Linked DNA regions of Homo sapiens: region 2 is reported to be linked to region 1. The links are microRNA targets in miRTarBase. Many come from high-throughput screens and were not tested one by one. Region 1 holds a microRNA gene; the other region holds the end of a gene's coding sequence.
The links. Region 1 holds the annotated microRNA hsa-miR-125a-3p (ACAGGUGAGGUUCUUGGGAGCC, at 1,898-1,919, shown strand). A microRNA usually pairs through its seed, bases 2 to 8, with sites in the 3' UTR of a target mRNA and lowers its output. Matches are read on the target gene's strand: a 7mer-m8 pairs with bases 2 to 8, a 7mer-A1 pairs with bases 2 to 7 and ends in A, and an 8mer does both.

Region 2: miRTarBase lists WFDC6 as a target of hsa-miR-125a-3p. The part of its 3' UTR that is shown has no 7-base or 8-base seed match.

What each region holds. Positions count from the first base shown.
Region 1 is chr19:51,691,409-51,694,932 of GRCh38, forward strand. It overlaps MIR125A (microRNA 125a), which reads left to right and starts at 1,846; the gene lies at 1,846-1,931. It overlaps SPACA6 (sperm acrosome associated 6), which reads left to right and starts at 1,922. Exons shown (of 9, transcript NM_001316972.2): 1 at 1,922-2,332; 2 at 3,070-3,147. The coding sequence starts at 2,119. It overlaps SPACA6-AS1 (SPACA6 antisense RNA 1), which reads right to left and starts at 2,048. Exons shown (of 2, transcript NR_108100.1): 1 at 1,226-2,048. MIR99B (microRNA 99b) reads left to right here and starts at 1,204; the gene lies at 1,204-1,273. It also overlaps MIRLET7E. RefSeq lists an enhancer at 1-197.
Region 2 is chr20:45,531,450-45,534,710 of GRCh38, reverse strand. WFDC6 (WAP four-disulfide core domain 6) reads left to right here. Exons shown (of 3, transcript NM_080827.2): 3 at 206-515. The coding sequence ends at 244. It overlaps LOC107987282 (a long non-coding RNA gene), which reads right to left. Exons shown (of 4, transcript XR_001754641.3): 2 at 1,385-1,437. Among named protein-coding and RNA genes, the nearest start is that of WFDC6, 6.4 kb to the left of the region's middle.

The sequences.
Region 1 (3,524 bases):
AGAAAGAGGAGAGAGACTGAGAGAGGGCCAGAGAGAGAATGAGAGAGACAAAGAGGGGGAAGGGGGAGAAGGGGAGGATGAAAGACAGAAGGTAGAGGAAAAGCAGGAGAAAGAGGGGGAGAGAAGGAAGAAAACAGAAGCGGGGAGAGGAGAGAGGCGATGGGCAGAGAGAGAAGCCAGCGCAGAGCCAGGGAGGGATGTCCTGATGCAGGAGGAGGCTGGGAACCAGGGAAGGTGGAAAGAAAGAGGGAGAGAGAAAAAGGCAGGGCCAGAGAGACCTGGACTGCGAGAAAGGAACCGGAAGGTGCGCCTGGAGCAGGGGCAGCGAGAACCAGACAGTCCAGGAGGAGGGGCTGGGCACGGGAGAGACCCCAGCTGGAGGGGCTCAGAGCCCAGGGGTGGGGAGGGTGGGTGCTGGGTCCCGGGGTCCAGAAGCTGGAGAAGGCTGGGGACACCTCCTGGATTCAAGAGGGAGGACAGAGATGGGGCTGGGCAGACTTTGGGAGCCTCTTCCCCTCTCTGAGGCTCAGCCCCCTCACCTGCCAAATGGGGATGCTGAGGGCACCTCGCTCTCTGGAGTGGGAGGTGTCAGGGAGAGGACTGGTGCTCAGGGCCTGGTATGGGGTCAGCGCTGGGAGATTGTGGCTGTCATAGTTGTAAATGACCCAAAGAAGGGAGGAGAGAGGAAAGAAAGCACCTAGGGAGGCTCTGATGGTTGGCTAGCCCCTGGCCTCCTTAGCCCTGGGCCTGGAGTCTCTGCAGACTGACAGGAGGGTAGGTAGGAAGCAGGTGTGCCCAAAGGGCCAAATTACGAGACAAATGAGGTTCCCTCCCAGCCGGCACCCAGGAAGCCAGGTTTTCTATCAGGCCATGCCTTCCCCAGGAGGCCTGCCTGGCCGGAGGGAGGAGGGGCTGGGGGCAGGGACTCCTGGGTCTCTGGGGAGAAGGAGGCTTTGGATCTGGACTCATGAGTCTGAGGGAGGAAGGGGCTGAGTCCTTGGATTCCAGGAACATTTGGGGAGAAAAGGGCCAGAGGCCTGGATTCCTGGGTCTGTGGTGAGGAAGGGCCTAGACTTCTGGGTTCTTTAGGGAGGAGGGGGATGAGAGCCTTGACTCCAGGGTCCCTGATGAGGAAGGGGCTGAGGGCCTGGACTCCTGGGTTCCTTGGGGAGGAGGGGCCGGGGGCCCGGACTCCTGGGTCCTGGCACCCACCCGTAGAACCGACCTTGCGGGGCCTTCGCCGCACACAAGCTCGTGTCTGTGGGTCCGTGTCGGGGGCTCACCATCGCGGCTGGGGCCTCCCCGGCCCTCCCCCTCATCCCTGGTCCTCCTGGTCCCTGTCTGTCTGTCTGTCGGGTCTGTCCACCTGCCGCGCCCCCCGGGCTGAGGTAGGAGGTTGTATAGTTGAGGAGGACACCCAAGGAGATCACTATACGGCCTCCTAGCTTTCCCCAGGCTGCGCCCTGCACGGGACGGGGCCCGGCGGGGACCCCCAGCCCCACTCAGGGACCCTTAGCCCCACTGGGCTGCCCCAGGGACCCTGGGAGGAAGAGCCGGGCTCTTTTCTGTCCTTGTCCCTGCATCCCCTCCTTCCCCTGAAATCTGTTTTCCTTCCCTGTCTGTCTCCATCTCTGCTGTGTCTCTGTGGCTTCTGTGTCTCTTTCACAGTGGATCCTCTGACTCCCTCTTATTCTGGCTTTCTAGGTCTCTGCCCCTCCCGATATCTCTCTGTGTCTCTATTTCTGTCGTTTTTGGTCTTTCTGTCTCTGGCTCTCAGAATGTCTCTGTGCCTATCTCCATCTCTGACCCCCACCCCAGGGTCTACCGGGCCACCGCACACCATGTTGCCAGTCTCTAGGTCCCTGAGACCCTTTAACCTGTGAGGACATCCAGGGTCACAGGTGAGGTTCTTGGGAGCCTGGCGTCTGGCCCAACCACACACCTGGGGAATTGCTGGCCTGACTTCTGACCCCTGACTCCTCATACCCTTCCTCCAGAGCATGACATTTGACCACCAACTGAAACCTGACCTCTGACCCCAGACCACTGGCCCTTCCCCCGCCCTGTGGTGACTTCATAAAGGTTACTAGCTTCTCCCCTGGCCTTGAGACCCACACGATGGCCCTGCTGGCTCTGGCCAGTGCCGTCCCGTCTGCCCTGCTGGCCCTGGCTGTCTTCAGGGTGCCCGCCTGGGCCTGTCTCCTCTGCTTCACAACCTACTCTGAGCGCCTCCGCATCTGCCAGATGTTTGTTGGGATGCGGAGCCCCAAGCTTGAAGAGTGTGAGGAGGCCTTCACGGCCGCCTTCCAGGGCCTCTCTGACACCGAAATCAGTGAGGAGACCATCCACACTTCATCAGTGTCCTGGGGAAGGTGCAGAGGGAGGGCAGGAGAGGCCCAGAGGGTCAGGCTGAGGGACAGACAGAGAGAAACAGTCAGAGGAGAAAGGCTCAAAGACCATGAGAACAACAGAGACTTAGGGACAGAGAGACACAGACAGGGGAAGACAGCAGGGCAAAGACTCAGAGAGGGGAGGATGGAGAGTCAGAGAGGGGAAGATGGAGACTCAGAGAGGGGGAGGATGGAGACTCAGAGAGAGAGGAAGATGGAGACTCGGAAAGATGGAGACTCAGGAGTATGGAGAGTCAGAGAGGGGAGGATGGACACTCGGGAGGATGGAGAGTCAGGAGGATGGAGACTCATAGAAAGGGGAGGATGGAGAGTCAGGAGAGGTTGGAGACTGGAGAGGGAATAGAGACCCAGAGAGGGGAGGATGGAGACTCAGAGGGTGGAAGATGGAGACTCAAAGAGGATGGAAACCCAGAGAGAGGAGGACAGAGATGAGGCAGAGACTAGGGGAAGCAGGATAGCGACTGGTCGGGGGCAGAGACTCAGGGAGGATAGAGACTTGGGAGGGACTCAGGAAGCATAGCGACTGTGGGGCAAAGAGTCAGAGAGGGGAGGATACAGACTTGGGAGGGCAGAGACTCAGAAACAGAATGTTCGCATTAGGGACATGGTGTTGCGGGGAGCTGCCTCCCCCAGCCCCTGCTCCCTCCCTCACCGCCAGACTATGATGAGAGAAGCCACCTGCATGACACCTTCACCCAGATGACCCATGCCCTGCAGGAGCTGGCTGCTGCCCAGGGTGAGTGTGTGGGGATGGGGAGATGGGAGATGTGGACTTGGAGCCCCTAAGAAATGGGTATGTGGGAGGGCCCAGGGCAGAGGAAGGAGGCCCCCAGAGTTGGGCAGTGATCCGGGAGGGGAAAGCTGGGAAGACATTGAGCTCAGCTACTTGTCCAAACGAAGGCTGAAGGCAGCTCTAAGAGCCAGGGGCTGAAGGTGGTGAGGGGGAAGGGACGCTGCAGAAATTGCCTAGAGCTGGAAGTCCAGATGGGGTCGGGTAGGCATAGGTTCTGCCATGGCTGCATGGCTCACACTCTTACTGGCTATGAAGTTCTGGGTGTGTCACTGCCCCTCTCCTGGCCTCAACTTACCCATCTGTAAAGTGGGACAATCTTC
Region 2 (3,261 bases), not on the chromosome of region 1:
ACACTGAGACAACAGGCATAAACTGGGACTCTACTGGACAAGTCAGAACTCATGATCATTCTAGGAGCCCCCAAACTCACCTTCATTCCATTCCTGCCCAAAGATGTAAAAATGATCCCACCTCCTTTTTCCCATTAGGTGCAAGATTTGGTTCCTAATGTGGTCAGGGTCCAAGCATCTCACCCTTTATTCTTCTGCTTCACAGGTCAGCCTTACTTTATACCATAAGGAGGAGCTTGAATAACCTCCAGGATTTGGCTCATAATCCAGGCCTCTCTCCACGTGTGCCTGATTGATGCTCCAAATTGGCTTCCACGGGCCAAACCTTGGCTGTTCCAGAAACTGAACCCCAGGAATTGCTTACACACTTTCTTCCAGCGTAGCATCTCTTCAAACACAATGCTCTTCCCCTTGACCACTTCTCAGTATGAAACTCTATGTCTTCAACTTTCAGACCCCCCATTTATTTGTATGAAGGCTTCAGTTGCCTTAATAAAGTGCTCTGTGGGGTCCGATCTCTCCGAGGCTGAATAATTCACATCTGCAATATGCTGATATTGACATACACTCACATCTCTCTATATGCAATTTTCAGAGAACAAAAAGCCATTGCATTTTCTGGTGACACCAAAAAAGGGAGAGAGTATGAAAATCCTGCAAATTGAGAATGCTAGTGACATTGTTACTTTGGTAAAGTTGTCGTTAAGATGCTGAAGAATGGAGCCAGTGCAGATCCAGATTTTGTATGGTCTAAACCTGATAAATGAGGAGCTCCTTTAGAAACCAAGCACAGGCTGGGCACGGTGGCTCACGCCTGTAATCCCAGCACTTTGGGAGGCCAAGGAGGGCGGATCACCTGAGGTCAGGAGTTCAAGACCAGCCTGACCAACGTGGAGAAACACCATCTCTACTAAAAATACAAAATTAGCCAGGCGTGGTGGTGCATGCCTGTAATCCCAACTACTCGGGAGGCTGAGGCAGGAGAATTGTTTGAACCCAGGAGGCAAAAGTTGCAGTGAGCTGAGATTGCACCATTGCACTCCAGCCTGGGCAATAAGAACAAAACTCAAAAAAAAAAAAAAAAAAAAAAGAAAGAAAGAAAGAAAAGAAAAAAGAAAGAAACCAAGCACAAATGAGTACAAAAGAGAATATTATTTCAAATGAGGAGGGAAATTGCAACCAGCTGCAAATTTTTAAAGGCTGACAAACAGTAAAAATTGCACAAAACCCATATAAATTAATAATTCATTGTTTACATTTATGACCTCAATTCTGTAAAGCACTATTTCTGTGGAGAGAATGGAAAGATAACTTTTTATTTAATGTGGGGATCAAAATATGATATTTTAATTTTTATTATAGGTGAATTGGATAAAACATGTACCTGAATGCTTGAAGCCATGCTTGATGTCTGCAGTTCTGTTACAGGTTTGTGTCCTAGAAACACAGGAATTTTAATAAATTATCTTTTGTACAACTCTATTAAAAAAAGAAAAAATGCATGGTACATTTAAAATTGTACATATTGAATTATCAAGTATATGCTTACTACAAAAGAACTTCTGAACAGGCTTCCATAAGAGCTGATTTTTTTTTTCTAATTAAAATGTGATGTATCTGACCAGACTCAGTGGTTCATGCCTGTAATCCCAGCACTTTGGGAGGCCGAAGGGGGCAGATCACCTGATGTCAAGAGTTCAAGACCAGACTGGCCAACGTGGTGAAACCCCATCTCTACTAAAAATACAAGAAATTAGCCAGGTGTGGTGGTGCACACTTGTAGCCCCAGCTACTCAGGAGGCTGAGGCAGGAGAATTGCTTGAACCCGGGAGGTGGAGGTTGCAGTGAGCCAAGATCGTGCCATTGCACTCTAGCCTGGGCGGTGGAGTGAGACTCCATCTCAAAAAAAAAATTGATGTATCTGATATTTGAAAGAATGCTACACAGGCTTGTTTTCCTGGCTCCACACATTTCAAAACTTGTTTCTCCTCTACCACCCGCAACCTTCTTGGGCTAAGAACATTCATTTTACAGTGCAACCTCTAGTCCCATAACTTAGTGTCATAACATCAAGGGAATAGGCCCAGTAGAAAACAGGAGTATTATTTGCAGCTGCTTCTCCACCAGGACAGCTAGCAGCAACTTCCTACACATACAAATGACAGCTAACGACCTAAATATATTCTACTAACTCCAAAATAAATATATCCCCAACTCAACTTCCTTTTAATTTGCATGCCTAAAATGCTGGCAGTCGCCCAAACACCACCTGACCTAGGAGAAGTGTGACAGAGGGAAAGGTCAGAGTGGAAAGGGAAGGTGGATTGGCGATTATGGTTAGAATATCTTACTTTTGCAGATATTACAAGTCATCTGACCATGTAAACATATAGCTAGAAGCACTCCCAGAATCTTAAAAGGGGCTCGCTCGAGCGAGGACCCTGAGGCTTGGCTCCATCGACCTCATGGTAAGTCCGTCTCTGAAAGGGCTCATGGACTTGTTTACTGGAGTTGTAGTAAAGAAGACAGTTCCATAGTATGGTGCAGAAACTCCAAAATTGAAAATAGCTGGACAGGCATGAAAGGGGGAGATGGAGGAAAGCAGAGAAGAGTTAAAGAGGAAGGGAGAAGAAAGGGGTGAAGGAGGAAAAGACACTGGATGGTGTGACTGTTTTAAAGCAAGGTCCTAAAATTCTTTCACTCACCTTCCACCTAGAAGTGGGATCTATGTCCCCTCCTTTTGAATCTGAGAAAACTCTGTGACTGCTTTGACCAAGAGAATAAAGCAAAAATGATGCTATGTGACCTCCAAGGCTAAGCTAGAATAAGTGCAAGTCCCACTTGATCCTCTTATGTAGCTTGTTTGGGGGCAGTGGGAAACTGCCATGTAAGATGTCCAACTACTCTGAGAGAGGCCCATGCTAGAGAGACCCATGTGGGTGCTGTGATCAGCAGGCCCAGATAAGCTCTGACTGATAGCCAGCATCAATTTCAGCCATGCAAATGAGATGCCCAACCCAATAGAGCCTTCAGATGGCTGCAGCCCCAGCAGACATCTGACTGCAACCATGGGAAAGACCCTATAAAAGAACCACCAAGCAGATTGCTTCCCAGATGGCTGACCCACAATATAAAATGGTTGCTTTAAAGTGCTAAGTTTTCAGAAAATTTATTCACAGAATAGGTGATCAAAGATGGAAACGGGCTAGGAGCAGTGGCTCACAGCTGTAATCCCAGGCACTTTGGGAGTCCAAGGCAGGC